6 separate regions of the Homo sapiens genome follow, and all the other regions are reported to be linked to region 3. The links are microRNA targets in miRTarBase. Many come from high-throughput screens and were not tested one by one. Region 3 holds a microRNA gene; each other region holds the end of a gene's coding sequence.

Evidence for each region. The annotated mature microRNA hsa-miR-1-3p reads UGGAAUGUAAAGAAGUAUGUAU and lies in region 3 at 1,770-1,791, shown strand. An mRNA with a match to its seed (bases 2 to 7 or 8) in the 3' UTR can be bound and repressed. Matches are read on the target gene's strand: a 7mer-m8 pairs with bases 2 to 8, a 7mer-A1 pairs with bases 2 to 7 and ends in A, and an 8mer does both.
Region 1: the mRNA of ZBTB6 is a reported target of hsa-miR-1-3p. Seed matches in the 3' UTR shown: 7mer-m8 at 2,905-2,911.
Region 2: miRTarBase lists RSRC2 as a target of hsa-miR-1-3p. The part of its 3' UTR that is shown has no 7-base or 8-base seed match.
Region 4: the mRNA of STX12 is a reported target of hsa-miR-1-3p. Seed matches in the 3' UTR shown: 7mer-m8 at 1,219-1,225.
Region 5: miRTarBase lists PPP2R1B as a target of hsa-miR-1-3p. Seed matches in the 3' UTR shown: 7mer-A1 at 1,273-1,279.
Region 6: the mRNA of NAIP is a reported target of hsa-miR-1-3p. Seed matches in the 3' UTR shown: 7mer-A1 at 2,781-2,787 and 7mer-A1 at 2,154-2,160.

The regions. Positions count from the first base shown.
Region 1 is chr9:122,907,183-122,911,274 of GRCh38, reverse strand. It overlaps ZBTB6 (zinc finger and BTB domain containing 6), which reads left to right. Exons shown (of 2, transcript NM_006626.6): 2 at 1-3,219. The coding sequence ends at 477. Among named protein-coding and RNA genes, the nearest start is that of RC3H2, 3.9 kb to the right of the region's middle.
Region 2 is chr12:122,502,317-122,506,408 of GRCh38, forward strand. RSRC2 (arginine and serine rich coiled-coil 2) reads right to left here. Exons shown (of 10, transcript NM_023012.6): 10 at 1,138-3,390. The coding sequence ends at 3,211. Among named protein-coding and RNA genes, the nearest start is that of ZCCHC8, 3.4 kb to the left of the region's middle. RefSeq lists a silencer at 1,753-1,953.
Region 3 is chr18:21,826,714-21,830,805 of GRCh38, reverse strand. MIR1-2 (microRNA 1-2) reads left to right here and starts at 1,718; the gene lies at 1,718-1,802. The region is part of intron 12 of MIB1 (MIB E3 ubiquitin protein ligase 1); the gene reads right to left. MIR133A1HG (MIR133A1 host gene) reads left to right here. Exons shown (of 3, transcript NR_110369.1): 2 at 12-186; 3 at 1,354-4,092.
Region 4 is chr1:27,821,974-27,826,065 of GRCh38, forward strand. It overlaps STX12 (syntaxin 12), which reads left to right. Exons shown (of 9, transcript NM_177424.3): 9 at 258-2,470. The coding sequence ends at 356. It also overlaps the pseudogene RNU6-1245P. Among named protein-coding and RNA genes, the nearest start is that of PPP1R8, 6.8 kb to the right of the region's middle.
Region 5 is chr11:111,738,368-111,742,459 of GRCh38, reverse strand. PPP2R1B (protein phosphatase 2 scaffold subunit Abeta) reads left to right here. Exons shown (of 15, transcript NM_002716.5): 14 at 316-407; 15 at 848-4,092. The coding sequence ends at 864. Among named protein-coding and RNA genes, the nearest start is that of PPP2R1B, 26 kb to the left of the region's middle.
Region 6 is chr5:70,966,719-70,970,810 of GRCh38, forward strand. It overlaps NAIP (NLR family apoptosis inhibitory protein), which reads right to left. Exons shown (of 17, transcript NM_004536.3): 17 at 1,448-3,750. The coding sequence ends at 3,386. Among named protein-coding and RNA genes, the nearest start is that of SMN1-AS1, 36 kb to the left of the region's middle.

The DNA of each region.
Region 1 (4,092 bases), not on the chromosome of region 3:
GTTCCTGGGAATCAAGATCAGGGCTTATTTTGTGAGAATACTGAAGGAAGTTATGGTACAGTGAGTGAGATTCAGAATCTGGAGGAAGGTTATTCACTGAGGCACCAGTGCCCCAGGTGTCCTCGAGGCTTTCTTCATGTTGAAAACTATCTGCGCCACCTTAAAATGCATAAACTATTCTTATGCTTACAGTGCGGAAAAACATTTACACAGAAGAAAAATCTCAACCGACACATCCGAGGACACATGGGCATACGGCCCTTTCAGTGTACTGTGTGCTTGAAGACATTTACTGCCAAAAGCACACTTCAGGACCACTTGAACATACACAGTGGGGATCGGCCATACAAATGCCACTGTTGTGATATGGATTTCAAGCACAAGTCTGCTCTCAAAAAGCACTTAACCTCTGTCCATGGCAGAAGCAGTGGTGAAAAACTATCTAGGCCTGATCTCAAAAGGCAAAGTCTACTATAATTATAATCACAGACTTGTTATATAAAGTTTGTATTATTCTATTACGCAAGTCTTTCTGTAGAGATGCAGCATTTGTAATATTTCATCCCCCCAATCTTTGTTTCTTATATTTTGTCGGCTTACACATAATCATTCTTTCTGAACTTCTAACAGTTCCAAAGTTATGGGAGGCACAGTAAAGCTGATGGGATTCTGTCTCATCTCATACCTTACATATAAGTCTCAGTAGTATCCCTAGAGAAATAGTGTTCCTCTCTTATATATTCTTGATTCTAGTGACAAAGGATCCAGCAGTATTTGCAGATTCCGATTTGGAGTCTCTAGGTAATTGATTTAAGTATAAAATCCAATCATATAAAAACTTTAATGAATTAGGATAACAAGAAGAGAAAATAAAGGTAAAAACACTATTACCTGTTTCTAGTCACTTTAGAACAGATGGCACTAAAAAAATTTTTTTTTAACTTTTTACCAGCTGTTCTTGGATTCCAAACTAAACACCAAGATACTTTTCATTTTAAAATGTATAAAGTAACAATTCAGATTCACTTGGGAATAGCAGAATTTTTTTATACAGGGTTAATAATCCTTAAAATACTTTTATTTCCATGCCTTATTAGTATACATACTTAAGAAATGGTTCATTGGGCCCGAGTTTCTTGATTTTATTTAATACAATCGGATTTAATAATTTTGTGGCCAGTAAAATTATACCATTGGCATGAAGCTGTGAAAAATGAGAAATTCTACCTTTACCAGGGATATCTGTTCTACTGTTTTAAAAGTTCCTCTCTATTTTATTTTTTATTTAACATGAAGTAAAATTGAAATTTCTTCTTGGTGTATAGTTCTGTGAATTTTAACAGAAAGATTTGTGCACCACTACTGCAGTCGGTACAGAACAGTTCCTTCACTCCCAATAGCTCTCTTATGCTGTCCCTTTGTAGTCAGCTCCTTCTAGCTCTAATCCTGGCAACAGTTCTCCGTCACTATTATTTTGCCTTTTCTGGACTGTCATATAAACAGAATCTTATAGTACGTTCCCTCTTGAAATGCTTTTTCACCCAGCATAATGACTTTGAGGTTCATCCATGTCATTTTAAATTTTGAATTGGCAATATATATTCTAGCTGTTACTAGATGAGCAATTTAAAAAGGTGTAGCTATTAGTGTTGTATTTTTTCATTTACATTAATGTAATTTCCATTCACTATGTGTTGATAAAAATCTTAACCATCCCTAGAGTTTTATATTTCCAAAAATATGCCAAAAGGAAAACTATGACTGTATGATTATTTTAGCGAGAGTCATATTTGAGATGGTGTTCTGAGCCATAGTTCTCTAACATCTCCGTCTACATATAACACAAAACTTTTATAAATTATTTTAACAAAGATTAAAATATACTGCAGGGCAAATAATATTCTCTAAAACACAGGAACTGCTTTTCGTAAAGAAGACTGACTAGATGCATCTTTCTTTGAAGCTGTTCTAGTCCTCCTCTAGTTAACTTAGCTTTATGTAGAATTTCTACTGTATTTAATTTCTATTGAAGCCCTTCTGTATTTTAAAATGTAATATACTTTGTACCATTTATAAAAATTGTGTGATGAATGAATCACATGTTCGTTGTTATAAGTGTTAACCTTTTTTTGACAATTTTGTGGGAAAGACATTCTCCACTGAATTTTAACTTTCCTTGAGACTTTCAAGAATGCAGGTCTCGTTTGATGAAAAAACCGACTTCATAACCCAATGTTACTAGTTAGCGACATTGTGCTGAATTTCTCCTTGAACTTTTTAACTTTATATGTAAAATAACTTTGATCTTGGTCATTTGAAAGATCATTTCCAGGTCTAAAATTCCATGATTTTGTATTTAATTCTTCCTGAGAACAGAAGAGGGGAAAGCAAGAGAGGACGGTTTTGTGTCTTTATGAACTTTGTTACTTAAGTACTCCATTGGAGACATAATTTTTCTAATTAGTGGATCTTTTTCCACTGGAAAGTGTGATAGCTCATTGCTAATTTTTCATTCATAGTTCATTGCTTCCATTTGACCTAAGATTGGCCATTTGTTGGTGTGAAAATATTTTCTTTTCAGAAATAGTTTACTAGTGATTGAAGTACTTTTCTTATTTTTGCTTCCTATTATAAAATGGCGTGGGGGGAAGGGGGAAGGATGGAGATGGGAGGAGAGGGTAAAAGAATAGTACTCTGATTTTTTAAGAATTAGTATCTACTATCTTGGATATTTGAAAAAAAATTGGTTGAAACTATGTTTAAGTTTTATGTGTGCCTTGTAAGATTGTTGTAAAATTTTTTGTGAGCACTTTGAGATTTTTGCTGGGGGAGGGGTGTTTTGTGAAAGTGATGGTTATTATTTATATTATTTATTCCTGTTCAGTAGCACGGAATGATCTCCAAACATTCCTAGGAGAGTGTCTGTTTGCATGATATGTCTAAAAATTTTCAGGAAAATGGAATCTTTTTTTAAAGTTCAGGTATGACAAAGTATAGAATTTATTCATTTAACATATTCACATTTAGTTTATGTTTCTGATATGACAGAAAAATGAAAAGTGTTTGAGTTCAGCCTCTTCATTTACTCCATTTACATATAAAAGATCTTGAAAAGGTAGTTGTTACTTCGTTGTCAGAGAAAAACACTTGCCCTTTTTCCTGGGATGTAACTATCTTACATGTTTACATAAGAAATAATAAACTGGAGGTGGGAATGGAGAACAATGTGTTTTGTCTTCATCTTTGAATTTTAAAGGATACAATTTAAAGGATACAATTTCTCCTGACTATACATTAATCATTCATCTAGCAAATACTTCCTGAGTCCTTACAATGAAATATAAGTTAGGTATACAGACAAAAATTCCTGCTCTTGTGAAACATCTTAGTGAAGGGAGACAAACAGTAAACAAGTAAGTAAAATCCATGTATGTCAAATTTTGAGAAGGAATTTGGAGAAAAATCAGGAATAGGGAGTACCAGAGAAGGGGGATGGAATTGCAATTTTAAATATGGTGGTCAGCGCCGGGCGCCGAGGCTCAGGCCTGTAATCCTAACACTTAGGGAGGCCGAGGCTGGCAGATCACTTGAGGTCAGGAGTTTGAGACAAGCCTGGCCAACCTGATGAAAACCCTTCACTAAAAATACAAAAATTAGCCGGGCATGGTAGCGCTTGCCTGTAATCCCAGCTACTCGGGAGTCTGAGACAGGAGAATCCGTTGAACCTGGGAGGCAGAGGTTGCAGTAAGCCAATATCGCACCGCTGCAGTCAGCCTAACTGAGGGAGCAAGACCCCATCTCAAAAATAAATATGGTGACCAGGACACCTTTGAAAAATCTCGGATTATCAGAAATATATATTCTTCTGTCTAGTGAAATGTAAATATATCCAGTAGAATAGAAAAATTTGGCCTGGACTGGTGGCTCACGCCTGCAATCCCAGCACTTTTGGAGGCCGAGGCAGGCGGGTCTTCTGAGGTCAGGAGTTCAAGACCAGCCTGGCCAACATGGTGAAAACCCGTCTCTACAAAAATACAAAAAAGAAATTTAGCCGGGCATGATGACGGGTGCCTGTAATTCCAGCTACTGGGG
Region 2 (4,092 bases), not on the chromosome of region 3:
CAGTAAAGTGAGGAAGTGAGACTTTAAGGATCGGCAAAGTTGGGGGTGGGAGGATGGAAGAGTGTCTTAGGTGTAAGGACCACCATGTTGAGTGAAAAGGCAGAGTGGAGCAAGATGAGGTTGGAACACTGCTAGGTCAGTGCTCAAAGGCCCTTAAGGAAGCCTCTTTCCGTTTACAACATTGGGAAGTCACTTACACATTTTAACATTTTTTTTTTCTTTTTGTGGACAACAGGATCTCCCTATATTGCCCAGGTAGGTCTTGAACTTCTGAGCTAAAGCTATCCTCCTGCCTCTGCCTCCCTAAATACTGGGATTACAGGAATGACCCACTGTGCCTGGCCATTTAAATTTTTTTTTTTTGAAATTTTATTTTTTGAGACAGAGTCTCACTGTGTCACCCAGGCTGGAGTGCAGTGGCATGATCTCGGCTCACTGCAACCTCCGCCTCCCAGGTTTACTTTCACTGAAAAATCTGCATGAGGCCTGGCGTGGTGGCTCACGCCTGTAATCCCAGCACTTTGGGAGGCCCAGGCGGGTGGATCATGAGGTCAGGAGTTCAAGACCAGCCTGGCCAACATGGTGTAACCCGGGAGTTCAAGACCAGCCTAGCTGACATAGTGAAACCCCGTCTCTACGAAAAATACAAAAATTAGCCGGGCGTGGTGGCGGGTGCCTGTAATTCCAATTACTCAGGAGGCTGAGGCAGGAAAATTGCTTGAACCCAGGAGACAAAGGTTGCAGTGAGCTAGGATCATGCAACTGCACTCCAGCCTGGGCAAAAGAGTCTCTCACAAAAAAAAAAAAAAGAAAAAAAGAAAAAAAAATTCTGCATGTAAGTGGACCCTAAAGTTCAAACCCATGTGTTCAAGGGACAACTGTAATTTCATCTTTTAATTATTTGCATTTGGCTACTCAAAAAAGAAATTGAAATAAAATACTTAGGCCAGGCACTGTGGCTTCACACCTGAATCCCAGGTAGCACTTTGGGAGGCTGAGATGATGCAGATCATTTGAGGCCAAGAGTGGGAGACCAGCCTGGCCAACAGCCTGAGAACCCCATCTCAGGTACATTGTCATGGGCCTTTGGTGCCAGCTACTCAGGGGAGTGAGGTGGGAAGATCACTTGGACCAATATACATATACACACATATTTTATTGGACAGTGCTGCTCTAGATGAGCAAAGTACAGGCTGTATCACTCATCATGTATGGTCAGCTCCTAAAATAACTGTAGACACACAGGAAGCTTTTGCGTCCACACTGCCTTAGAAGGTCATGAACATTTTTAATAAGATTGATTTAAAAAGGCAGAGCTTAATTGAAAAATGTTGATGATCACGAAATGAAGGATCCATAGTGTCATTTCCTTAGAAGGCTTAGATTTGTCACTGAAACACGGTGAAAAGCCATTTTGCCATAGAATTTCTGTGCTCTGGGAAAATGAAAGGTTTATTAAAGTACATTAAAAATCTTACAATCTGGCTAGGTGAAGTGGATCACACCTGTAACCCCATCACTTTGGGAGCCCTGAGGTGGGAGGATTGCTTGAGGCCAGGAATTCAAGACCAACCTGGGCAACGTAACAAGACCTTGTCTTTATAAAAAATTAAAAACAAGCTAGGTGTGTTGGTGAGCACCTGTGGTCCCAGGTACTCAAGAGGCTGAGGTGGGAGGACTGCTTGAGCCTGGGGGAGCCTGCTGCAATGCACTGCACTCCAGCCTAGGACAGAAAGCAAAAAAAAAGAAAACACCCCATTACTTCATTTTCATGTATAAAAAAAATACCTAATGAGCAAGTTGGCAAGACTTAATTCCAGCTTTTAAAATAAGGCTGTCAATCTTATTCCTGTAGTCTTCCCTGATTGTAATGTGCTCTCATTCTGTGATGTTTTCCAAAGGATTTTTCAAAGGAAAGCCAAACCTTATTACTTTGCTGTAACTGAAGTAAATTAACTTCAAGTTTTGCAGGCCCCCCCCACCCCTTGGCTCCAGATTTATGTTCAATCTAGTAACAAAACATTTTCTAGGCTGGCTGCAGTGGCTCACGCCTATAATCCCGGCACTTTGGGAGGCTGAGGAGGGTGGATCACCTGAGGTCAGGAGTTCAGGACCAGCCTGGCCAACATGGTAAAACCCCACCTCTACTAAAAATACAAAAATTAGCTGGGTGCGGTGGTACGCCTGTAATCCCAGTTACATGGGAGGTGGAGGTGGGAGAATTGCTTGAACCTGGGGGGCAGAGGCTCTGGCAGTGAGCCGAGATTGTGCCACTGCACCCAGTTTAGGCAACAGAGCAAGATCCTGTCTCAAAAAAACAAACAAAAAAAATTTCTAATATTTTAATATTTTATAGTCTATGCTGGAGAAGACTTCAAAGGGATAATGAGCAAAAAGCATGCAAAGAACTTGTTATAAGGCACTTTATTAAAATAAAAGTGCTTACATCCCTTTAATGCATTAATCTATCTCCTGAATAACACATGTAATATTTGACAAATACTGAATACCAAGTCTGTCCCTTATAATAGGAAAACATACTATTTTAGTAAGTTTTCTCCTTCCACCTTTTACATTTTTGCTCACCACGGTATTGACTGTAGTATAGTTAACTGGCCTTAAAAAGGGTGGTGGGGAGGGGATTTCTAGCTAGTGTTTTCTAACAGCAATTGCCAAATGCTACAGAAACTATAAAACAAATTCAAAGAAACATCCCAGGTAACTTAAATTAACACCAGTTTTGAGAAAACCATTTTTATTATCATTACCACCCAGCTTATCTGTGCTGGATTATGTACCAAATGGCCAGATCTTCTAAAGAACATCTACATAACATTTCTTTCATGTTTCAAGAGATGAAAATAACTGTACAAGGTTAAGTACAAAAGTACACAAGACAGCGGACACGAAAAAATCCATGTATGAGATTTTATCCCCACCTGCAGCTTTTATATATTTGAAAAGTAGAATTCATGAACTAAAAAATATTATCCTTCTATAGTCCTGTCAAGTTTAATGGAAGTGGGTTTAACCTGATTACAACACTAACACCAGTATCACTGATCTGATATTTACAAAAATTTGTATTTTTCAATAAATTAAAGTCAATGCAACACCCATGCAAGCTAGAGTGCTAGCTGTTTGGTGAACAAGGACGTGACATCAGAACAAGAAGTCTATAAGTCCCAAACTTTACAAGTGTGATCATTTTCAAACTGCATCCATTCCTCGCATTGAAGATGTGAAACCCAAACCCATTCCTCTTTGTGTGTGGGTTTGTGATCTTGCCATTTCATACTGAGCATCTAAATTTCGAAATACTTCTTCCTGCTGCTTCAGAGTCTTGTAACTTTCTTCATCAACTGAGCTACATCCAGCTTCATCTTCACTCTAAAAATCAGACATAAAACATTACAATGAATTCAGATGGAGATAAATATTCTCTCACTTGACACTATTTTTTATGTATTTTTTTTTTTTGAGATGGAGTCTTGCTCTGTTGTCCCGTCTGGAGTGCAGTGGTGCCATCTCGGCTCACTGCAACCTCTGCCTCCTGGGTTTAAGTAATTCTTATGCCTCAGCCTCCCAAATAGCTGGGATTAGAGGCACATGCCACCACGCCCAGCTAATTTTTGTATTTTCAGTAGAGACGGGGTTTCACCACATTGGTCAGGCTGGTCTCGAACTCCTGACCTCAGGGATCCCCCCTGCCGCCTGCCCCCCGGCCTCCCGAAGTGTTGGGATTACAGGTGTGAACTAGGCTGACACTATTAAATTATACTTTTGGCCGGGTGCAGTGTGGCTCACGCCTGTAATCCCAGCACTTTGGGAGGCTGAGACGGGTGGATCACCTGAGGTCAGGATTTCGAGACTAGCCTGGCCAACATGGTGAAACCCCGTCTATACTAAAAACAAAAAACAAACAAACAAAAATATACTTTTGGGATATGTATTTGATCTCAATAACTTAATTTCCATTCATTATTGAACACCTCCAAAGGACAAGGCAATGTTCTTTCTAGGTCTGGAATATAGCAGGGTGTAACAAAAGTTAACTTCAGTTTAGTAGGTTGGAAAAAACATAATATGTAG
Region 3 (4,092 bases):
TATCTTAAAAGGTGAGGTTCTGTGTTCACTGATACATCCCCTTCCTTCACCGGGCTCATGAAAAGAAATGCTGAATCAGCAAATAGAGTGAACGAACAATCAAGATGAGATGGCTGCTGTTGATGTGATTCTCTAGGTTACTACCTTTCTTCCTGCTGCAAATGCTGCATGACACTAAGCTTACAGGTAACAGAGCACCATAAGGCCTGTACTTTTAAGGATGCTTATGACTTTCTGCATGCTTACCTATTATTGACTCAATATATGTTCTCATTGTTAAATTAAATTCTATCTAACCATAGCCTAATTTCACAATTCAAGTTAAGAGCTAATGTAGTGTAAAAAGGAATATTGTTCAGATACTATGGCAGTAACTTTTTATCTTAAAAATGTACAAATACATTATTGTCATTTACATTATTAAAGATTTAGTCATTATTGTTTCAGATTAAGTGATGATTTTGCATCTCTAGTAAGTCACATCCTGCTTCCAAAGTATACTTATTTTCTAAAACTATTAGCTTCTATTTCAAGGTTTAGTCAACCAAGAAACTTGGCAGATCATAAAATACTTTTTAATGCTTACTAATAATTGGCCACAAAAATAAATCAGAACGTGCATGGTGTAATTCTAATGCTGCATTGCTGAAACTGCTGTAGTGCTGGGCTATCTACTGCTACATTCTGATTTGCTCTCTATAAGCTGCACTAGCTTTTTATCACAAGCTGCAGAAATTCTACTATCCCTGCCCTTTTTTTTCCTCCTTTGACAAATCTGAAAATTTCTTGAGGTTTTAAATTAACCTTCTAATACCACAATAACTGAAGGCTACTTACCAACTATAATTTCTTTTCATTCTAAACTATCAAGGTAAATAAAACCCAGGTGCTCACAGACTAAAACCTTTCAGTTCTTTGAAGTGATACTTTCTAAAAGTTGACGATTCTGACAGTTATCCTTTATACTAAAAAGATTAAAGAATCAAAACAACTTAAACTCACCAAAATTAGATATTTCTACATCTATTTGAATTTGTATTCAACTCATATTTGTATTTAACCCAAAGAGAAGCATCAAAGTGCAAACTTCAGGTAAGGAACTAATAAAGAAAAAAGAATGACAAATTTTCAAATGATCACGAGTTCTTATCTGTGACCTTATAAAACACTAACAAAAATTCATAATCTTTAAAAAAGTTCAATTCACCCACACTCATCCTGGTTTTTCTCCTTGTTGTTTCAACTTCTAGAGTCAATATCAGAAATACTTATTGGTTAATTTGTTAGGTTTTGAGTAAGATATCTAGTTTGTAAAAAAAAAATTGAATTTAATTAATTACTATCTACCTGTAGGATCTAGAAGCAGACTACAAAAAAAGAAGAAATTCACTCTGAAGACTGAAGAAACACTAGGCTGATCTTAAGTTTCCGAAATACACTCTGTAACACTACACTGATTCTTTGAATCTCTTGCAAAAAGAATCAAACCAGGACAAAGTTCAACAGATAACTGGTCAAATGCTTAGGAATGTCTATGTCCACCAAGAATATGGAACCATTAATGCCATGCTTCAGGTAAACTTGTTACAAAATTTAGTCTTCGATAAATTAGTCTCTGCAAATGATTTACCATTGCTCTACATTAGTAAGCTGAATGTTTCACTAACAAATAAGAAAATAAAATATTTCATGTTTTTACAGCTAACAACTTAGTAATACCTACTCAGAGTACATACTTCTTTATGTACCCATATGAACATACAATGCTATGGAATGTAAAGAAGTATGTATTTTTGGTAGGCAATAAACCACCAAGGGAGAATTAAACTGAGCTAAAAGAAGCTCTTGCTTCTTTCTACGTGAATGACCGTCATATGGTAAATTAACCTAGTCATGAACAGATGACCTTTGGCAATACTAACACCAAAAAAAAAAGGTTATCTACTACTGATAGATAGAAACTATCCCTAAGGTTTTTATTTCATGAAGGAAAAGAAGATCCAGTGAAGTAGATTTCAATTATCATGAAACTCCTTTTAAATCATCTAAGTTTAAAACAGACATCTTACATTTTTAAATTAGGCACTCTCATTATTAAAATTTGACTGCAAAAGGGAAAATAGTATTACTAGCACAAAAGAATGAGGAATACACATGACCTATTTTCTGTCTCCACAATTTAATCTTAAGTATATCTCATTAGTAGGGCTCACTGATTTGTACAGAAAAATAAGATACTAAGAGCTGGCTTCATTCACATAATAAGCTATTTCTTCTCATTTTGATAAATGTATAATTAATATTAGAGGAATTTCTGACCAAAAGTTTTGTTGTTTTAAAAAGGCTTTCTTTTTTGACAGCTACAAACATAGTGGCCCTTGTCCTTCCTTCTCAAGTTTATCAGGGTCTTAACCCAAATCTCTACTTTAAATGTGAAGTTAAAACTTAAAATTAATTAAAATGTAAGATTTAAGCATGAAAAATGACAAAATTCTGGTCCACAGCTGTAAGTCAGCAGGGTATATTGGTAACAGACTACCAAATATTTAAAAGAAATTAATTTATCTGTATTATCTTCGAATTTGCTTTCTCCAAAGAGGGCATGTAAAATGAAAGCACTATAGTCAAGAACCAATTTATACAGATCGAAGAACTGTTTTTATTGTACTATGCAATTACAATTCAATTTCTCTAAACTTGATCAATCCATTGTTTAGAAATATCAAAATACTTTTATTTCACACAGTTTGTATATTATTTATAAAAAATTCCAAATAATGCTCTTAGCAAAATTTATAAGCAGTACCTGTTTTAAGCTACTAATGACAAAGTTAGAAAATAAGAGTAATATTCACATATTCTAACCATTTCTTACTAAAAGTATTATTTCAACTGAAATATTTACACATGTATAAAAGCATAATATTTTAAATTTTTTGTATCAGAAATTGAATGGAAATGACTAAGTTTAACTATAGTTCATTTTCTGTTTAATAAGACTAGTTAATACAAAGATGATTTTCATTTTATCAGATTATAAAGAATGAGAATGACTTACACATGGCATCATATGTGTTACTGCATGTTTACTGGAAATTATAAAAGGCACATAATTTTAAAATTCTACACTTTCAAAGAAATTAGTTCAAAGCTTAACTCACATAAGCATAGCCCTTCTGATCATCCACAAAACAGAATGGCAATGATTCATGTTCTATTTGGTAAGTTTACCTGTATAGGTCCTAAATACCAAGAACTCAAAATATATACCTCAAAAGTAGAGGTTCTTCTATAAAAATACTCAAAGCTTATTACTCTACTTGTGTTTTATAATAAACAGTTATATTGGTCATTCTATAGGTATACAAGTTGTTTAATAATCCTTCTCAAACATCCTAGCAACTAAGACTCTCTTTGCTATAATATTAAGACTATATAAATAATCCTTAGAAAATAAAATGACAGGCTATTCATTTTTAAAAGTAAAATTATATGCTGATTCTGGTGCTTGCGAGTTTAACTTATCTAAGAGTATTTTCAATCACTCTAAAATGTCACATCTATCACTTAGATCAGCTGTTCATTTTTAACTGAGTACATATTAAACTCTGGGCATCTGCTGACACTGGTATAACTCAAACATTTCAACTGTCTCCCTGACAGGGATAACAGATGCTGACATTATCAAATGCTGTACTATTTTTTTCCCATGGCCTCTCCTTGCCCCGATATGGCCAGTATATGAAACTGAACTGCCATCCAAAAACACACTTGAGCAACTGGATCTGCTAAACAGCTCCCATATAACTAGTAAAAATAGAAGCCAGTATTATTGCTATCTTCAGCACTTAAGTTTAGGCAGTTTAACACCTGTTTCACTTCTACTAGAAAAAATGATGAAAAAGAATTGTAGTTAATTTCACCAGCAGTATGATACTTACCAACCAACAGACGCAGAATATACTTAGTGTAAGAGTCATTTGCATACTGCCTGAATTAGCGTTGACCTCTCAGTTTAAAATAGTAACTGTAAAGAATATTTCTCTACTCTATATTTCTCTGAGAGCACTTAACTTTATAGGCAAATTATAA
Region 4 (4,092 bases), not on the chromosome of region 3:
CACCACGGCACTCCAGCCTGGGTGACGGAGTGAGACTCTGTCTCAAGAAAAAAAAAAACACCAAACAAACAAAAAACACTTGCACTACTACCTAGTGCTGCTGACTTAAGATTTCTGGGAAAGTCTGTGCATAATTTTGCATGGATAGAGTTAATCTTTAATTACAAGGAGGCAGATTTATGAAGCATTCTTAGAGTCTTACACATACAAATTTTACTTGTTTCATGAGTATCTTGTTTACATATTTCTTTCCTCAGAAAAAATCTCGCAAGAAGATGTGTATCCTGGTGCTTGTCCTGTCAGTGATTATTCTAATCTTGGGACTTATTATCTGGCTAGTTTATAAAACGAAGTGATTGCCTCCGATCGTTCTCCCGCTGAGCTGTTTTCAAGGGCAAGTGCTTGTTGAAGTCTTGCCAGAACAAACTGATCACAAGAAGACAGCATATATCAGAACGTCCTGTAATCATTTAGTTAGAAACTAACTACTAACTAGTCTTTGGAATTCGTGACCTATGGAGACAGTAATTATCAATTTATTGATTCTATTGATTTCTCAAATTAGGAATTAACTTATGTGGATTTTGCTTCCTCTTGTATTCTGATTGCCCTTCATCCCAAGTGTTTACTGAAAATTCCATTCTAGATATTCTTGTTTTGACAAATGACACTACAGTCTCGTAATATTGTCTTTTATGTATATACAAAATTTACCTTTTTACTAGCATCTGAGATAGAGTTACTTTCTGGTACCCAGTATATTGGAGTCTGTCAGAAACTCTATAATAGGCCACCAGTTTTTATTATTTAACATTTTTATTTGAATTTCTAAGAAGCCTATTCTCTATCTATTTTGAAAGATTTTGGCACTATATTTAATTGGAAGGTAAAATATTGTACATGTGATCCAGAGTAAATGAGAAGTCTCTATCTGAGCTGGTCAGTTACTGGAGTACATGTTACTAATCTGGGTTTAAAGTTTACTTCATTATCTGCTAGTGTCATCCACAGCAGTTCATCCTCATCCACACTAAGCCATCCTGTTAGCTTTTAAAGGAAGTTAATTTAATTAACATTAATATACTCTATGGGCTCCCTCTCCCACCTGTCTGCATAGAAAGGCAGAATTAGACATAGCATGCTTTGGAAAAGCAAATAGGAATTGTTGGGAATGATTTAATCTTGTTGTTGTTGTTGTTGTTGTTCACTTGTGGTTCTACATTCCTGGTGAATGATGAATGTTGCTGTCAAAGGGCTGCCCCCTACCTTATAAGGGTTGCTGGGCATTTGAAGGCAGGAAGATTTTTAAAGATAGATTGAGGTTGGTTTAAAATTATTCCTGTAAACCAACAATAAAGCAAAGAAGAGGTTCATTTTTGTAAATAACACTGGTTTCAAATAGTGATGTTAGACTTAACCTAATTTATAAACAAGAGATTAATATCTCCATGCATAGTTTTAGACAAAAAAAGATGTTTCAATAAAATTACTGTCTTGTAATATAAATGTTGTCCACTTCCCTTTTCCACAGGCCTAGAACAGTTAAAGGGAACATAATTTGTTTAGGCTCCCACATAAATGTGAATCTGGCCAACAACTTTGGTTCATCCTTTAGTGAATTAGAGGATTTGGCTACCCTGAGTATATTTATATTCATTTCTTCTGTTCTCCTTCTGTTATTATACTTAATCTTCTAAACTAAACTAATGTGAACAGTAGGGAAGCAAGGGCCCAAATGCATAAGTTTCTTTGCACTGTTGCACTTACTTAATACAAATAAATGTTTTTTAAAGCTTTTGTAGTATGTTTTTATGAGTTAACATCCTAATGTGGTAGGTATTAGGTAATGTGCTGTCATGAGAAAAATTGAGACTTCCAAGAAAACTGGACACCAGGTGAGGGTTGGTTTGGAGACGGAATAGGTGTAGCTGCCTTTCCTTGAAAAACAGTGTGTAGAGATGGCTGAGTGCAATGGCTCACACTTGTAATCCCAACACTTTGGAAGGCTGAGGCGGGAGGATCAGTATATCGGTACGTCTGAGCCCAAGAGTTCAAGATCAGCCTGGGCAGTATAGCAAGACCCCATCTCCATTTTTTTTTTAATGATTTTTTAATTAAAAAAAAGAACAACAGGATAGAGCTGTTGGGGTGGCACAGTGGCCCAAAGAGCAGCTTCAGAGATAATTCCTTGGTTCTATGATCCCTGTTTAACTCCAAATTACAGTCGGACTTGGATACATCATTTGTAACATTGTAGGAAAGAAAAAAGTCTTGGTTGTGAAAAACGATTTGCATTTGGGTAAAATAAAGTGACCATGCTTTTGTTCTGTAATACTGTGTGACCTGTGGTTGTTGTAATGGTGATCATGGAGAGCAAATATGAACTTGGCCTGGATTTTAAATGGCCTAGAATTTGTGGTAGTTGCCAAAGAGGTTCTCCTAGGTGGTCTTAATAAACCTATTCACAGAATTCTCCTTATCTGTGCCTTGATTATCATTGGGAGCATCACAATCTAGGACAGCAGTTTTTAACATGGCTTCACATTAGAAACTAAAAAAATACAGTGCCCACTTTGGCAGCACGTATATAAAATGGGAACAATAGAGAGAAGATTAGCATGGCCCCTGCACCAGGATGACTTGCAAATTCATGAATTCTCTCTCTCTGTCTCTCTCTCTGTGTGTATGTATATATATACTTTTTTTTTTTTTTTTTTTTTTGAGACAGGGTTTCACGCTGTCGCCCAGGCTGGAGTGCCGTGGCACAATCTCAGCTCACTGCAACCTCCACCTCCTGGGTTCAAGCAATTCTCATGCTTCAGCCTCCCAAGTATCTGGGATTACAGGTGCTCACCACAATGCCTGACTCATTTTTTAAAATATATTTTTAGTAGAGATGGGGTTGTACCATGTTAGCCAGGCTGGTCTGGAACTCCTGACCTCAAGTGATCCGCCCACCTCGGCTTCCCAAAGTGCTGCAATTACAGGCCTGAGCCACTGGCGCCTGGCCGAAGTGCTCTATATTTTTAAAAAAATATTCTCTGTGCTCCTCTTCTTGCTAAAAAATAAAAAATAAATACTGATACCTCAGTCCCACAACTCCAAGATTTTAATTTAGTCTGGAGTATATATAGCTTGGGCATAGGGATTTTTAAAGGCCCCAGGTAATTCTTACCTGTAACTGTGGTTGAGAAGCATTGGTTTGGATGTCAGAAACTAGACTGGGGTACAAAAGACCTTAGCTGTGCCGTTAACTTGCTGAGGGTATTTGAAAAAGTCACTTATGGCTGGGCGCGGTGGCTCATGCCTGTAATCCCAGCACTTTGGGAGGCTGAGGCGGGTGGATCACGAGGTCAGAAGTTAAAGACCAGTCTGGCCAACATGGTGAAACCCCATCTCTACTAAAAATACAAAAATTAGCCAGGCATAGTGGCACACACCTGTAATCCCAGCTACTTGGGAGGCTGAGGCAAGAGAATTGCTTGAACCCAGGAGGTGGAGGTTGCAGTAAGCCAAGATCATGCCACTGCACTCTAGGTCTGGGCAACAGAGCAAGACTCTTGTCTCGGGGGAAAAAAGAAAAAGTAACTTAACCTTTAGGCCCCAAGTTTTCTTGGTAGCTCTTTTCCAGCTACGAAATTTTCTGATTATAAGGACCCACGGCAGTTTAGTGTGAACATACAAATTGTATTTTTACCTCTATCTTCCTTTCATTTTCTCATCTCCTTTTCTTTTTTTTTTTTTTTTTTTTTTTTTTTTTGAGATGGAGTCTCGCTCTGTTGCCCAAGCTGGAGTGCAGTGGCGTGACTCGGCTCACTGCAAGCTCCACCTCCTGGGTTCACGCCATTCTCCTGCCTCAGCCTCCCGAGTAGCTGGGACTACAGGCGTCCGCCACCATGCCCAGCTAATTTTTTGTATTTTTAGTAGAGGCAGGGTTTCACCGTGTTTGTTAGGATGGTCTTGATCTCCTGGCCTCGTGATCCACCTGCCTCGGCTTCCCAAAGTGCTGGGATTACAGGCGTGAGCCATCATCCCCTTTTCTACTTCCTTTATGAAATATCCTAGCAGTACTGGGTAGATCTAGCATTCTCT
Region 5 (4,092 bases), not on the chromosome of region 3:
GTAATTAGCTAAAATTAAGTTCAGGGATTTTCACTTTACTTAAGATCTGGGTTTGCTTAAAGAAAATAATTTAGCAACTATTTTTGAGGATGTCCACTATGACTTTTATATTTAAGCTCTGTAAATGTGTAGATCCTTGTCTGAAGCTGATTTTGCTGAGAATTTCTTTAGACATTATTTTGTGTATTTGTCAAGTTTATAAATGTCTTTATTTTTTTACTTTAAATTTTAACAATTACCATTAACCATATACACCAAAAAGGATTTCTATGGCCCATTAGACTGTCTTTCACAGATAATACTTTTGAATGTCAGTGCTTTACAGGGAGAAGTGAAGCCAGTACTACAGAAGTTAGGTCAAGATGAAGACATGGATGTCAAATACTTTGCACAGGAAGCTATAAGTGGTATGTATTTCCTTCTTTTGCCTTGCAGCTTATGCCTTGGTTAACTGGGATTTATCTCTATTATGTGAGAGGTGTTAAGTGGGTAGGATGATAAGTATTATGGGAAACAGGGAGGGTAGTAAGTTCCTGGAATGCTGGTGTCTCTCTGATTAGAACCCTCTTGGCCCACCATTTTCTCATAAGTGAGCAGGCTATTTTTCTTAGTTACATGTAGGACTGGGTAGGAAATACGATTCTCACTGGTAAGAATAGTTTTTCGTTTGGAATTTAACCAGTTTTTAAAGTTTCACTTCTGATTAGCCTGGCTGAGTAAAGACAGTAACCACAGTGAGAAGTTGTTAGTTTGATACGTTTGGATCATTGTTATTGTGCTTAATATTCACATAGATCGTTCGTGAACTTTCTGTACCACTAACCTGATTTTGTTTGGAATTTTCCAGTTCTTGCATTGGCATAATGAGGAGCAGGAGGGAAAAGGCCTTTACTAGATTCTTGTCACAAATTTCTAGTCAATGTGTTCTTAACTGGGTGGAGAAAGAATGGAAAACCTTCAAGATCTCATCCAAGCAAATGGCAACAACTTAGAAGAAATCATTTAGTGACTTAATTCTTTCTAAAGATGAAATGGGATTGTTTTTTACTCGTCTTCCTTGTTAAATCATTATTTAAGCCGTTCTTATTGACCAATTCCTGACACTTGATTGTCTCCTAATGCTTTATCCATCACCACCTGGGCTCCTGCATCCTCACTGTGGAATCAGGCACCAGCCACATAATGTTCCAGACAAAGCCTGGAAGGGTGTGGACCCAGACGTGGAGTGGAGTGATTCTCTTGACGTTTACATATATCTCTGTGTCTCTCCATCATTCCAAAGCTAAATGTACATGTTTAGAATAACTTATTTTATAAACTCTTCGGGAGACATGTTGAGATTTGACCGTAATGAAAGCCACATTTTCCTGAATTATGATGGTCTGCATTAGTCTCATGTGAAAGGGGAATGTGGAAGCTCAGGGTTAATGTAGTGGTTGTTTTGGTTTTTATTTGCTCAATTTTGTCTGTACTCATGTCATTCAGAAACCTGAAGTGTGGCTGCATCTTGCTGCTAATGTGTGATGTTGACGCCTAACTGAATTTGAACAGCTCACCACTGTGCCTACATTTAAAAATACTTCTCTCTCTTTTCTAAAAAGCTTTAACTGTAGTGCCTCCTAATAAGCAGTATGTTTGTTTCATTGTGAGATTGCAGTTCTGTATTTCGAATGAGTCTAAGAACCACAGGGATAATACTGTGCAGATTTCCTGTTCTTTACCTGGCTCTGCTTCCAGCAGTATTGACACCTAGTCCTTGCTGCATTGTACAGTAGCTTTTCAAACTGCAGTTTTATTGCTAAGTTTTTAGTATGGGTGATACTGGAGTCTTATCATTTGAAGTGTTTGCTTTTCTACTTTTACAGTAAAACCTCATTAATTCTGAAATTTAAGATAATGAGTTAAGCTGAAGAGTTTACTGAAGCAAATTAATAGTGAGGAAGCCTATTTGAACTACTTAAACAGTATTAAAGCCCTTTTTAAAAAGCACCTATTTGGGATCATTTGAGGTCAAGAATTCGAGATCAGCCTGACCAACATGGTGAAACCCCATCTCTACTAAAAATACAAAAAAGTTAGCTGGGCGTGGTGGCACACACCTGTAGTCCCAGCTACTCAGGAGGCTGAGGCAGGAGAATTGCTTGAACCTGGGAGGTAGAGGTTGCACTGAGCCGAGATCGCGCCACTGCACTCTAGCCTGGGCCATAGAGCGAGAGTCCATCTCAAAAAAAAACAACTATTTTTCACATAATCAAACTCACCTTGTCTCATGACTTTTGGTTAAGGGGGTTTTCCCATAGTTTATTTTTCTCTCAGTGCATCTTGCTATGAGGTTTGCTTGTTACCCTTTTGGTTTTTGAATTGTTGATTTTGTTCACAACCTCTTTTAAATCTAACAAGTCCTGTTCTGTTTAGTGAAGGCCCAAAGACTCCTCTAAGACTTTGTATATTTGTTACATAAAACCAAGTTTTACTAAATACTTTAAAATTTGTCCTACATTCGAAAAATAGAAATTGTAAATCAGAGGTTATCTGTCTGCATTTTAAACTGCCAAATTACCTTATAGTAAGTTTCTATTTTATGACTTTGGGCCAAGAATTAAGTATTTTCCTAAGCACAAATCTTTTTCTATATTCTCATTTTAATATCTTATGCTATTATTCTGTAAACATTTTAATTTTAGTTTCATGAGTCTTTATTTTTTGTTACCTGCAAGTTATGTTCTTCTTCATTGAATTTCATATTTGAGAGACATTTGTCTTCATGAAGCAGATTTGCACTGGAACCATTGCTTTACTCTGGTTGGAAATGCCATTGTTTTGGGGACAGACTTTTAAAATGCCCTTGTGTCTCCCAGTGAGGAGCCCTAAGCATTGACTTCTCTACCCTAAAACTGTTTGAGAGAGGGAGAGTGGGCCCTGGCTTTCTCAAGCATGGGTCGGGGGTTCAGCGGGGCCTCTGTCTTTTGTGGTGACCCCTCAGGGGTTTCATTGTTTCCTTCTGACTTAAGCAATAGAGAGAGAATTTGTTTTGGTACTCTTCAGAGGAATTGTGCTTTGGCTCATAACTTGGCCATGTTCTCCATGAATTAGTTCTCCTATTTTTTTTTTTAACTACCTTAAACTTAAGGGAAAAGTTCTCCTATCTTGATTTCACTGGAATATAGGCTTTAGGAGCTCTGTAAGGCTGGTATTTTTGTCTGTTTTATCTTCTACTGTATCGCCAGTGCCTGGAACAGTGTCTGGTGCACATAATAGGTGCTCAATAAAAATGTGTTCAATGGATGAATTTCTAAAATATCCTCCAATGTGTGCATGGAACAAATAATCAAAAGAACCAGACTGTGTCTTATTCTCCCACTGACAGAAAGATTTTCCTGCTTTCAGGAAACAAGCTTTATGTGGCCCTTTTCTGGTCCCCTGGCTTAGACTACAGTTCTGTGTGGATTTGTCTGATTGCTTCAGACATGTAATGTTGTTTTTCATCCTTGGCAGCTTACATCAGTTGTTTGTTTGATTAGAAAAATGAAGCAGACACACACACACACACACACACACACACACACACACACACACAAACATATAACCTATGCCAATAAAAATGTCTCAGCAACAGTGGAATTCACCTTGGTGTTTCTCTCTGTAATTTGTGTGGGGTTTACCCCTCACAGGTTTAAGAGACCAGGTCTTGTTTCTCTCTCTGTGCTACCAAGAAGATGTGAACCTGAGGATGCATCTTGTTTCATAAGAAGGAAGGCAGGTGAATATGTGGTTTCTAACGAGGTCTTGTTGAAATAACGGGCTGCCCTCAGCTCACAGAAATACCACAGCTCAGCCACTGTGATGCAGAGCCCCAGGGGTCTTTGCCAGACAACTTGTCCTGACTCAACAGAGACGGCAGCCTGACCTTTGAGCTGGCTTGTCCAGGCATTCAGGTTGCTTGCGTAGACTTCCAGGGAAGCAAGCCTGTCCTTCCTGACCCGGCGGTTAACCTGGTGCACTTTTGTTCCTTTGTTAACTGTTGTGTTGTCACTAAACTGAAAGGCTGGGGCTTGCCCTTAGACGTCACATTGGCTCTGTCCCTGTGGCGAT
Region 6 (4,092 bases), not on the chromosome of region 3:
TAATAGTATGCACACATGGGACAAAACTCAACTGGTATAAAAGGGTATGCAGGAGAAAAAAAGCAAACTTCCCTCTCTCCCTTTTCTGTCCACCAGCCATCCTGTTCTCCTCCCTAAACTCAATTATGGTTGCCTGTTTTTTATATAAGTTTTCCATGAATTTATAAATACATCACGTGCATATATCCTGTCAGTCAATATTAAGAAATTACTAGGTTATTTTGTGTTTATGTGTGCACTATTAGATTTAATGAGTTATGCTAGTTGTTGCCTCTTATATCCACATTCAGTCTTCATTGTCTGTTCTGTAATAATAGATCTGGGCCCTGTAAATACCTCTCCCATGACAGTAAGCACAGAGTGAAACTTTGTCAATCGAGGGTGCTGCTGACACACTGAAGGGGCAAGGGCTGCTTTTCCTGGTTCCATTGTGCTCCTCTAGGCAGACACCTGCAACACCTGTGCCATCTGCAATACCAGCTCCTGTAGCACATACACTCTGCCTCTGCAGCACCTCGTTCTGGCTGCACACTTCTTGGGCGGTGCCTAACTTCAGCAGCACCCAATGGTCAGCAGCGCACAGTACCCCCACATGAATGGCTTCCCTTGACATGCACAAGGTCCCTTCTCTGCAAAGTGCCCCAAGCCCAGCACCTTCTCCAGCTGCAACTCCACAGCCTCAGCAAACCTCTGTCTTTCACAGCTGTGTCCTCTCACACGAAGTCTGGATCTCAGCCCGGATCTCAGCCCTGAGCTTTCTTCTTTGAGTTGTTCTGTCTCAGCCTGGGGTGAAAAGCCCATATCGGCTGTTCCCTGCATCTGCCCAGGCTTCTCTTTATTCCTTACTACCCAATCCCCATTCCAATCCTCTGTTAATAACTCTTACGGACAGTCCCCAACTCATGATGACTTGACTTAGGATTTTTCTACTTTGCAATGGTGCAAAAGTGATCCGCATTCAGTAGAAACTGTTCCTCAAGTACTCATACGACCTCTATTTTTCACTTTCTGTACAGTATTCAATAAATTGCGTGAGATTTTCAATACTTTATTATAAAATAGGCTTTGTGTTTATGATTTTGCCCAACTGTAAGCTAATATAAGTGTTCTCAGCGTGTTTAAGGTAGGTCAGGTTAAGCGATGATGTTTGGTAGTTTAGGTATATTAAATGCATTTCTGACATACAATATTTTCTACTTACAATGGGTTTTTCAGGATATAACCCTGTTGTAAGTTGAGGAGCATCTTATTTTATTTATTTATTTATTTATTTGAAATGGAGTCTTGCTCTGTCACCCAGGCTGGAATGCAGTGGCACGATCTTGGCTCACTGCAACCTCTGCCTCCTGGGTTCAAGCAATTCTCCTGCCTCAGCCTCCCAAGTAGCTGAGACTACAGGTGCACACCACCATGCCTGGCTTTTTTTTTTTTTTTAATTTTTTTTTGTATTTTTAGTAGAGACAGGATTTCACCATGTTGGCCAGGCTGGTCTCGAACTCCTGACCTCAAGTGATCTGCCCACCTCGGCCTCCCAAAGTGCTGGAATTACAGGCGTGAGCCACTGCGTCAGGCCGAGCATCTGTATATTAAACTTTCCCCATTCAAATTTCTGTGTGGTTTCTGTCTCCTGACTGGATTCTGATATAATGCTTAACAACCTTTCTAATTACAAAGGTATTACATATAAAATCAGACAAGCAAGAAGACAATCCATCCCACCTTCTAGTACTCTTGCCCTCCAGAGGTAGCTCCAGTTAATATTTTAGTGCTAAACTAGATTTATTTTTGTTTTAAATAGAAAAATAATGCAGGCACGAAAGTAAAACAAAAAACAGTACAGAATGGGAGAGACTGAAAAGTAAGAATGGCTTCCAGGCCCACTTCCTAGAGGTACGCACTATTAACATTTTTAGATATAAACTTCCAGAAATTTTTTTCCAGTTTTATTTAGGTATAATTGACAAAATTATTTATATTTCAGTTGTACAACATGGATGTTCAACATGTTTTGGTGTACATATACTTTCTGATATTATAAATGGTTACCACAAGCAAGCTCAGTAACATATTCAGAAATTCTTAATGTAGCTAGCAATATAAGTGGTTTTGTTTTTTGTTTTGAGACAGACAGGGTCTTGCTCTGTTGCCCAGGCTGGAATGCAGTGGCGCCATCTTGGCTCACTGCAACCTCTGCCTCCCGGGTTCAAGCAAGTCTTGCGTCTCAGCCGCCCTAGTGGCTGGGACTACAGGCATGTGCCACCACACCTGGCTAATTTTTGTATTTTTAGTAGAGATGGGGTTTCACCATGCTGGCCAGGCTGGTCTCGAATTCCTCACCTCAAATGATTCGCCCGCCTCAGCCTCCCAAAGTGCTGGGATTACAGGTGTGAGCCACCGCACCCAGTCATAAGTGGTTTTCTAAACAAATGAGACCACACCATACATACTGTCCCTATATTTCATACTTGGGCAAGGGGAGGGGAGTTGACTTTTTTCTTAGTGAGAATAAAAATGAGGATAAAAGTATGGTTGTTTACCAACTTATAGTAGTATCATGAATTTCGAATGGTCTTCTGGCCGTTCAGAAAACTACTTAACTGGTAGGAACGAAATTCTGGACACTGACATTGATATAGACACTCATATCAAATATAATACTATGAAATACTATGATATGGAAATAATATGCAATCACTAGAGATAAAATATTTTCTACCCAAGTAGAGTGGATTCATAAGAAAATTCTAAATTATAGCATATGTTGAACTCTGAGAAGCCTCTGGAATGAAGTCATTTTTCCCTAACCCCTGTTTCCTCTTTATATTGGCAGTGGATAAATGGAAAGTAAGTTAACTCTACTGTACCAAAGCTAGTTCAATATAGAAAACAGGTTCTACAAGGATTAAGGAACATCTCTTGGCCCACAGAAGATTCATGTGGATCCTGTGTTAAACCCGTTTCATCCATGTATGAAAGTGATTCAACCGTTAAGTTAGCCATTTATTATATAAATTGAATACTTCTTCCATATTGTGGCTTTTAGATAGATTGGCAGACCTGTCCCCAACCCCTTCCCTGTTGACCATGGACAATGGAGGGTTTGCTGTATAAACTTGATTGAAGGGTTTGCCTTTAGCTGGGGTGGATTACTCAGGGACCTCAAAGGTATTGGTGATGATTTATTTCTTGAGCTTGGTGGTGAGTATGCAGGACTGTGTTTTGTTTTGTTTTGTTTTTTAGCAAGCCTTACACATTTTCTTTTGTATGCAATATTTAATAAAATAATTTTGGATAATTTGGTTTTTAGCATTAATCAACAACTTTTTTTACATCCTCAATATGCCCCAAGACAAATTATTGATTCAGCAGTTTTTAGCTGAATCTTTTATTTCTGAATGATTGGAGAGAACGGCAGTATCCATTTCTGGAGAATAGTTAAGTACTTAGATTGAGGATGTCTTTCTTTCATGACATTAAGCAATGCAATATCATCTGCATCCAAGAGCCAACTTAACATGTTCAGTCTAATGAGCCTTGGTAGTCGTAACACACATTGACTCAAAGACTTGACTGTTGTGGCCTGAGCTTTGATACACTCTGTGAAATGCCTGGAGATGTCCAACTCCTGCAAGTTTGGCATGTTGTCCAGTGCTTGAAAGAAATTTCTGTATCCTTCCTCTGTAATCTTGTGATTGATTGAAAGCTTTAGGTTCTCAAGTTTCTGGAAACCTCCACTGATTGCTACTTTGGCTACAAGAACAAAACATTCATGAAAATAGAATCATAAGGACTTCCATTTCAATAATGGTAGACAAGGTTATTTGAACCAGCCTCCTCTCCCACCACTACTGCTAGTAGGAAGTACTCAATATAATTTTGTTTTTTGAAATGGGGTCTTGCTATGTTAACACAGGCTGGTCTCTTTTTCTTTCTTTCTTTTTTTTTTTTTTTTTTTTTTTTTGAGATGGAGTCTCGCTCTGTTACCCAGGCTGCAGTGCAGTGGCATGATCTCAGCTCACTGCAACCTCCGCCTCCCAGGTTCATGCCATTCTCCTGCCTCAGCCTCCCGAGTAGCTGGGACTACAGGCGCCC